Linked DNA regions of Homo sapiens. The protein of the gene in region 2 purifies or fractionates together with the protein of the main gene of each other region. This does not show direct contact. Each region holds a gene or a part of one and is shown on either strand. Other genes may lie near its edges.

Region 1 (3,500 bases), on a different chromosome or scaffold from region 2:
GCCTGTTCAGCGGCTTGACTGGCTCTTCCATCTTCTGCCTAGGTTGCTTCTTTGCGGTTGTGGTTGCCGAAATCCTTAAGTCCTGGCTGTGGGCGGGAGCTGCAGAGACTCTCTTACTTAGGGGCTTTCTTTAGCTTCTCAGTCTTTGCAGAAGATGATGTAAGTATAGTGGCTACTTGTACTTTGCTGCCCTTTTATTCAGATTCTTTCCCAAATGTGCATTATATGTTGACTGCATTTTTTCCTTCTCTTTCCAGGTTAAAGTGGTTGAAAAATACTTCTCAGGGCCTGCCATTACCCTGGAAAACACTCGTGTGGTTAGCCAATCATTGCAGCATTACTTAGAGCTCGGAAGGGTAAGTGTTCAGAAAACAAATCCAGAGGAAGTATCAAAGATGAGCTCCAGATACAGAGCTTTTATTTTGTAGACTGGACTATGCCCAGTAGACAAACGGCTAACAAAAGCCAATTCGATCTTACATAAAAAAGATAAACTATAAGTAAGTAGCCTGTGTCTTGAATAACAGGTTGTAACAACAGCAGTATGCTGCCTTTGTATGTAGCATCACTGGGAACTGGTCCTAAGCTTAGTGGCCCGGCTCCTCCTCCAGCTGGCCCTTAGGCATTTACACTGTGAGGGTGAGCAAGGATTGTTAGTTTGCACACACCCTCACTGACTTGCTTATCCCAAATGCAGATTAATATGTCTTCAATTCTCAAACTTAAAGGCAGAGAAGGGCCGGGTGTGATGGCTCATGCCTGTAATCCCAACACTTTGGGAGGCCGAGTGGGGTGGATCACCTGAGGTCAGGAGTTTGAGAACAGCCTGGCCAACATGACGAAACCCCGTCTCTACTAAAAATACAAAAATTAGCCAGGCATGGCAGCGCGTGCCTGTAATCCCAGCTACCTAGCTACTCGGGAGGCTGAGGCACAAGGATCACTTGAACCCAGGAGGTGGAGGTTGCAGTGAGCCAAGATCACGCCACTGCACATCAGCCTGGGCGACAGAGCAAGACTCCATCTCAAAAAAAAGAAACAGGCAAAGAAGTTACAGGCTTGGGTAACTAAGGTAATTTTGATCATGGGAAAGAAGTAACAAAGCCTATTTTATTAAAACTGTAACTGCCGGCTGGGCGTGTTGGCTAATGCCTGTAATCCCAACACTTTGGGAGGCTGAGATGGGCTGATCACGAGGTCAGGAAGTCATCCTGGCCAACATGGTGAAACCTCGTCACTGCTAAAAATACAAAAATTGGCCAAGGCAGGTGGATCACGAGGTCAGCAGTTTGAGACCAGCCTGACCAACATGGTGAAACCCCATCTCTACTAAAATACAAAAAAAATTAGCTGGGCATGGTGGCGGGTGCCTGTAATCCCAGCGACTTGGGAGGCTGAGGCAGGAGAATCGCTTGAAACCGGGAGGCGGAGGTTGCACTGAGCCGAGATGTGCCACTGCACTTTAGCCTGGGCAATAAGAGCAAAACTCCGTCTCAAAAAAAAAAACAACAAAAATGCAAAAACTAGCTGGGTGTGGCGGCGTGTGCCTGTAATCCCAACTACTCGGGAGGCTGAGGCAGGAGAATGGCTTGAACCTGGGAGGCGCAGGTTGCAGTGAGCTGAGATTGCACCACTGCACTCCAGCCTGGCAACAGAGCTAGACTCTGTCTCAAAAAAAAACAAAAAACTGTAACTGCCTACCTCCCCCACTCCATATTCTGCTTTCATGCTCATTACTTTGACATAGTTGGATGTGGATATTTCTTATATTCTTTCACTCAGGCTCTTCTAAAATGAGTAGAAGTGGGAGAGGAGAGAACGTGGGAAGTAGGCTAGCTGTTCGTGAAGTCAAAAAGGAATCATGTGCAAAATAGTTTTAATTTGTTTCTTCTTTTTAAAAATAAATTTCAGCAAGAGCTTTTTAAGATTCTGCATAGTATTTTGTTAAATGGCGAAACCCGTGAGGCTGCTCTCAGTTACATGGCGGCTGTCGTCAATGCCAATATGAAGAAAGCACAGATGCAGGTAGGATTCCTACAGACTGCTTTTCGCTGTTTGTCAAATTCATTCATCTGACCCAGATTTAGTCAGCACCTACCAGGCACTGTTCTAGGAGTGGGGGTACAGTATTGAACAAGGTAGACGAGCTTCCTGCTTTTGTGGAGCCCATGTTCCACAGAATAAACAAGTAGACATATAAATACATGATTTTAGACAGTTGTATAATCAGTGAAGAAAATAGAGCAAAGTAAATGACATGAGAAGAACTGTAGGTACCAGAAGGAAGATCTGAAGGTGATTTTTGATTGGGTGGCAGGAAAGGCCTCCCTGAGGAGGTGACATTTGTTTCATAGGAAGGAGCCAGCCATTGTAGTGGCTGAGAAAAGAGCTATCCAATGTGGAAACGAAGCAGCTTTGGTACAAGCCCAGCACGCAGGCTTTTGTGGCTGGAGAAGAGTGAACAGGAGGGAATGTCGGGTCCTGGAGTTAGTGGATAGGCAGGGCGCCATCGGGTTAGGTTTACGTGATCAGAACTGTCATGGGAGGGTTTTCAGCAGGGAAACCACAAAAGCTGCTATGTAGACGGACCAAAACAGAAGGGGGCAGCCAGGAACAGACCCAAGGGGGCAGCCAGGAACAGACCCAAGAAGGCAGCTGCAAGGGCGTGAGTGCTTCGGTCCGGGTGAGACAGGCCAGTGGCTGCAGCTGCTTTGCCAGAGGAGAAAAGGGCATCCTTCCTTGACTAGTAATAAATAATGAATGAATGATGTGATGTGTATACTCAGAAGCAAAAATCATGTAGAGAGAAGAGCACAGATCTTGTGATTTCTGATCGTGGTTCCACCGTTTACTAACTGCGGGACCTTAGACAGTGACTCCTCTGTGCCTCCATTTCCTCATCTGCTAAGCTGCGGTACTACTGGTACTGGGTTTATTATATATAAAGCTGTTAGAGTGGTGCCTGGTACACAGTGATCACTCAACCAATATTAACTATCATTCTTATCATTGTTGTATTATTATTTTTTTCTTAACAGAGGTAATCAAGTTACATTGTTATATTGCTAATGCAGGAGCATGCTGATGCTGTCACCTAGAGAAACAATGTCACATGATAAGAAGTGGAGCAACTTGTTTTGATGCTCTTGAGGGAAATAAAGAGGAGAAAGAGGCCGGGCATGGTGGCTCACGCCTGTAATCTCAGCACTTTGGGAGGCCGAGGTGGGAGGATCACTTGAGCCCAGGCATTTGAGACCAGCCCTGGCGACATAATGAGACCCCATCTCTACAAAATATACAAAAGTCATCTGGGCATGGTGGCTGGTGCATGCCTATAGTTTCAGCTACTTGGGAGGCTGAGGCAAGAGGATCACTTGAGCCAGGGAGGTCGAGACCAGCCTGGGCAACATAGGGAGACCCTGTCTCTACAAAAAAAATAAAAAATTAGCCAGTATAGTGGCATAGACCTGTAGACCCAGTTATTCAGGAGGCTGAAGTGG
Region 2 (3,500 bases):
GATCTCTTTTTTAATAAACAGCATATCTTTTTTTTTGTTTTTTGAACGGAGTCTTGCTCTGTCACCCAGGCTGGAGTACAGTGGCGCGATCCTGGCTCACTGCAACCTCCACCTCCCGGGTTCAAGCAATTCTCCCTGTCTCAGCCTCCTGAGTAGCTGGGATTACAGGCTCCCGCCACCACATCTGGCTAATTTTTGTATTTTTAGTAGAGACGGGGTTTCACCATGTTGGCCAGGCTGGTCTCGAACTCCTGGACTCAAGTGATCCGCCTGCCACTGCCTACCAAAGTGCTAGGAGTATAGGCGTGAGCCACAACACCTGGCCAACAGCATGTCTTAAATCATCACTAGTTGTGTGTTAATTGCCCATTAACCAAATATGATTATTTTGCTAGCTAACAGGTAAACATGAAAAACATTACTCACCTGATTCTCATTTCCTTTTCTTGCCTCATGTTTAATGTAGCCTTTCAAGGCTTTTAACAACTTGGTTGCCTGCAAGAGAGACCTTATTATTAGAGCCAAAAGTCAAATAAACAAGGAAGATACGTTGAATATTTTTTGCTGTTCTTGTATTCATTAAATGTACTCTGGTCAGACCATAGGACTAGAACCATTACTTAGAAAGAATGGGTCTCTGCTCTAAGGAATTTCACATCTGAGTGGGAAAGTTAGACAAGGAAAGAGGCAATTGCAATACAGTGGGGTAAATGCCCACGCTAGGAGGCTCAGGCTGTCATGAGAACATAGGTAGGCATGGCCATCAAAGTTGGGACTGCTAGGTTAGACTTCAGCAAGTATCTGCACAGGGCAGTTCTCAGATAAAGATGTGATGTCTCTAATTGCTGAGATCTGAAGGATGAAGAGAAGGTAGAGAAAGAGGTAGAGGAATGGCACAGCAAGGCAACAATGAGGGTGGAGTTTGAAGAACTTAAGTTCAGTGTGGCTGGAACATGGACCTGTTTGTAGGAGATAGTAAGAGACAATGTTGGGAAAGTGAGCAGGGCCGTGATGTTACCAGGCCTTGTAAGCCTTTAAAGAGTATGAACTTTACTCTCAGAGAAAAGGGCAGTCTCTGAAGAGTTTGCAGCAAGGCAGTGGGTGACCAATTTTGCATTACTCAGAATGAGTAGTCTACCTGCACAATGTGCAAGATGCATTTGATGGGGATGAGCCAGAAATGCTGTGGCCTGAACTGGAGCGGGGCTAAGGCAGTATGGATGAAGTCAAAACCTTCTTAGGAAGTGAAATCAGTGTGAACATGAGAGTTGAGGAAGAGGGAAACTTTGTTATGCCAACGTTTCTGGCTTGGACAGCTGGTGAAGTGTGGTACGGTCCCTAAGATGAGGAATGCAAAAGGTGACGGGGTCTTAGGGGGATGGTTGTAGGTCTCTGCCGGGGGAAGGGAACACTGAGCTTCTCTTCCCAGCCTAGGAAAACCTCCCTTCTTGTTCTTTCCTGAAAGAACAATGTTAATTTGATTGGTTACATTTTCCTGTGCTTTAAAAGTCAAGTTTGGTTGAGCGGGGTGGCTCATGCCTGTAATTCCAGCACTTTGGGAGGCCGAGGCAGGTGGATCACGAGGTCAGGGGTTTTAGACCAGCCTGGCCAACATGGTGAAACCCCGTCTCTAATAAAAAAACAAAAATTAGCCGGGCATGGTGGTGTGTGCCTGTAGTCCCAGCTACTTGGGAGGCTGAGGCAGAAGAATTGCTTGAACCCAGGAGGCGAAGGTTGCAGTGAGCCGAGGAGATGATGCCACTGCACTCTAGTCTGGGCGATAGAGCAAGACTCCGTTTAAAAAACAAAAGTCAAGTTTTTTGGTTGGGTTCTTTTTTTCTTCCTCTTCCACCCAGCCATGCAGTTGAGGGCCACAGCCATCCTTCTCAAGGTGGGCCCAGCCACCAGGCTTGGCTCTATTCTTCTCATGCCTTTTATCATGGGCCATGTGTCCAGTAGAGAATAGCAGAGATCCTGAAATTTGGTTTGTGCTCAAGCTTTTGCTTGTGGTGCAAGCCTAAGCCACAGTCTCCAATCCACTTTACCAGAATGCTCTGCATCAAGATATCAGGCACTATTTCAGCTAGTAATAAAGTGGTACCTTATTTTCTACTTGTTCCTTGAACCACCCTTGAGGTTTTCTCTGGGAAGGGGATGATTGGCAGGGCAGAATTCAGGCATTCTTGATTTTTCTAATACTCTCTTAATATACCTTCAAAATCTCACCAAACATACAAAAATGCATGAAGTGAGGCACCTGTGGCAGAACCCAGTGAGGAGGTTGAATGATATGAGGTGGTGTTCAAGAGTTGTGCTGAAGGTGCAGATGTTAGTTATCAGCATATATTCATGCATTCCTTCAACAAGCATTTATTGTGCTGGGCACTGTTCCAGACACTAGAGAGTGATTAATTAAACAGACAAGGTGATTGCCCTCCAGGATCTTCTAGCAGAGGTGAAACAGTTACCCAAGAAAGCTAGAAATGAATGATATGACGTCAGGTATTATGATGCAAAAATAAAACTGGGCAACTGGGGTGGGGTGGGGATGCTACCTGAATTAGGATGGCTGGGAAAGGCCTCCCGAGATGTGAATGAGGAAAGAGGCAGCAGGTGAAGAGCACTCCGAGCAGAGCGAGCGCCAAGAACAGGAGCCCTGAGGTGGACTCATGAGTTGAAAGACAGAAACTGCCCTTATGGTAGAAGTATGGTGAACACTGAGGTATATGGAGGGCAGGGAGATCAGAGATGTGACCAGAGGCTGGGTCAAGTAGAGAGGTAAAGGCCACAGCAAAAATTATGAATTTCAGCCAGGTACAGTGACTAATGCCTGTAATCCTAGCACTTTGGGAGGCCGAGGCAGGAAGATCACCCAAAGTTAGGAGTTCAAGACCAGCCTGGCCAACAGGGTGAAACCCCATGTCTGCAAAAAATAGCTGGGCGTGGTGGTGGGCACCTGTAGTCTGAGCTACTCAGGAGGCTGAGGCGGGAGAATCACTTGAACCTGGGAGGTGGAGGTTGCAGTGAGCCGGAATCGCACCACTGCACTCCAGCCTGGGTGACAAGAGCGAAAGTCTGTCTCAAAAAAAATAAAAAAATAGAAAAAAAATTAATTTCTTCCCCTAAATTGTTATTAGAAAAAAAGTCAGGCCTATAGAAAAGTCAAAGTAGGCTGGGTGTGGTGGCTCACGCCTGTAATCCCAGCACTTTGGGAGGCCTGAGGCAGTCAGATCACCTGAGTTCAGGAGTTCCAGACCAGCCTGAACAATATGGAGAAACCCTGTCTCTACTAAAAATACAAAATTAGCTGGGCATGGTGGCACATGCCTGTAATCCCAGCTACTTGGGAGGCTGAGGCAAGAGAATTGCTTGAATCCAGGAGGTGGAGGTTGCAGTGAGCTGAGATCATGCCGTTGCATTCTAGCCTGGGCAACAACAGCGAAACTCCGTCTCAAAAAAAAAAAAAAAAGAAAAGTCGAAGTAATGTAATAAACACTCAT

What was found. The genes of interacting proteins can lie anywhere in the genome.
Region 1: the proteins of NUSAP1 (region 2) and UBE4B fractionate together in Homo sapiens (co-fractionation; one large-scale study listed by BioGRID). This does not show direct contact.

What each region holds. Positions count from the first base shown.
Region 1 is NC_000001.11:10,130,458-10,133,957, forward strand, and holds part of UBE4B (ubiquitin conjugation factor E4 B), read left to right. Parts: intron 1-42; coding exon 43-159; intron 160-257; coding exon 258-356; intron 357-1,911; coding exon 1,912-2,025; intron 2,026-3,500. UniProt on the Homo sapiens protein: Ubiquitin-protein ligase that probably functions as an E3 ligase in conjunction with specific E1 and E2 ligases. May also function as an E4 ligase mediating the assembly of polyubiquitin chains on substrates ubiquitinated by another E3 ubiquitin ligase.
Region 2 is NC_000015.10:41,339,381-41,342,880, reverse strand, and holds part of NUSAP1 (nucleolar and spindle-associated protein 1), read right to left. Parts: intron 496-3,500; coding exon 427-495; intron 1-426. UniProt on the Homo sapiens protein: Microtubule-associated protein with the capacity to bundle and stabilize microtubules. May associate with chromosomes and promote the organization of mitotic spindle microtubules around them.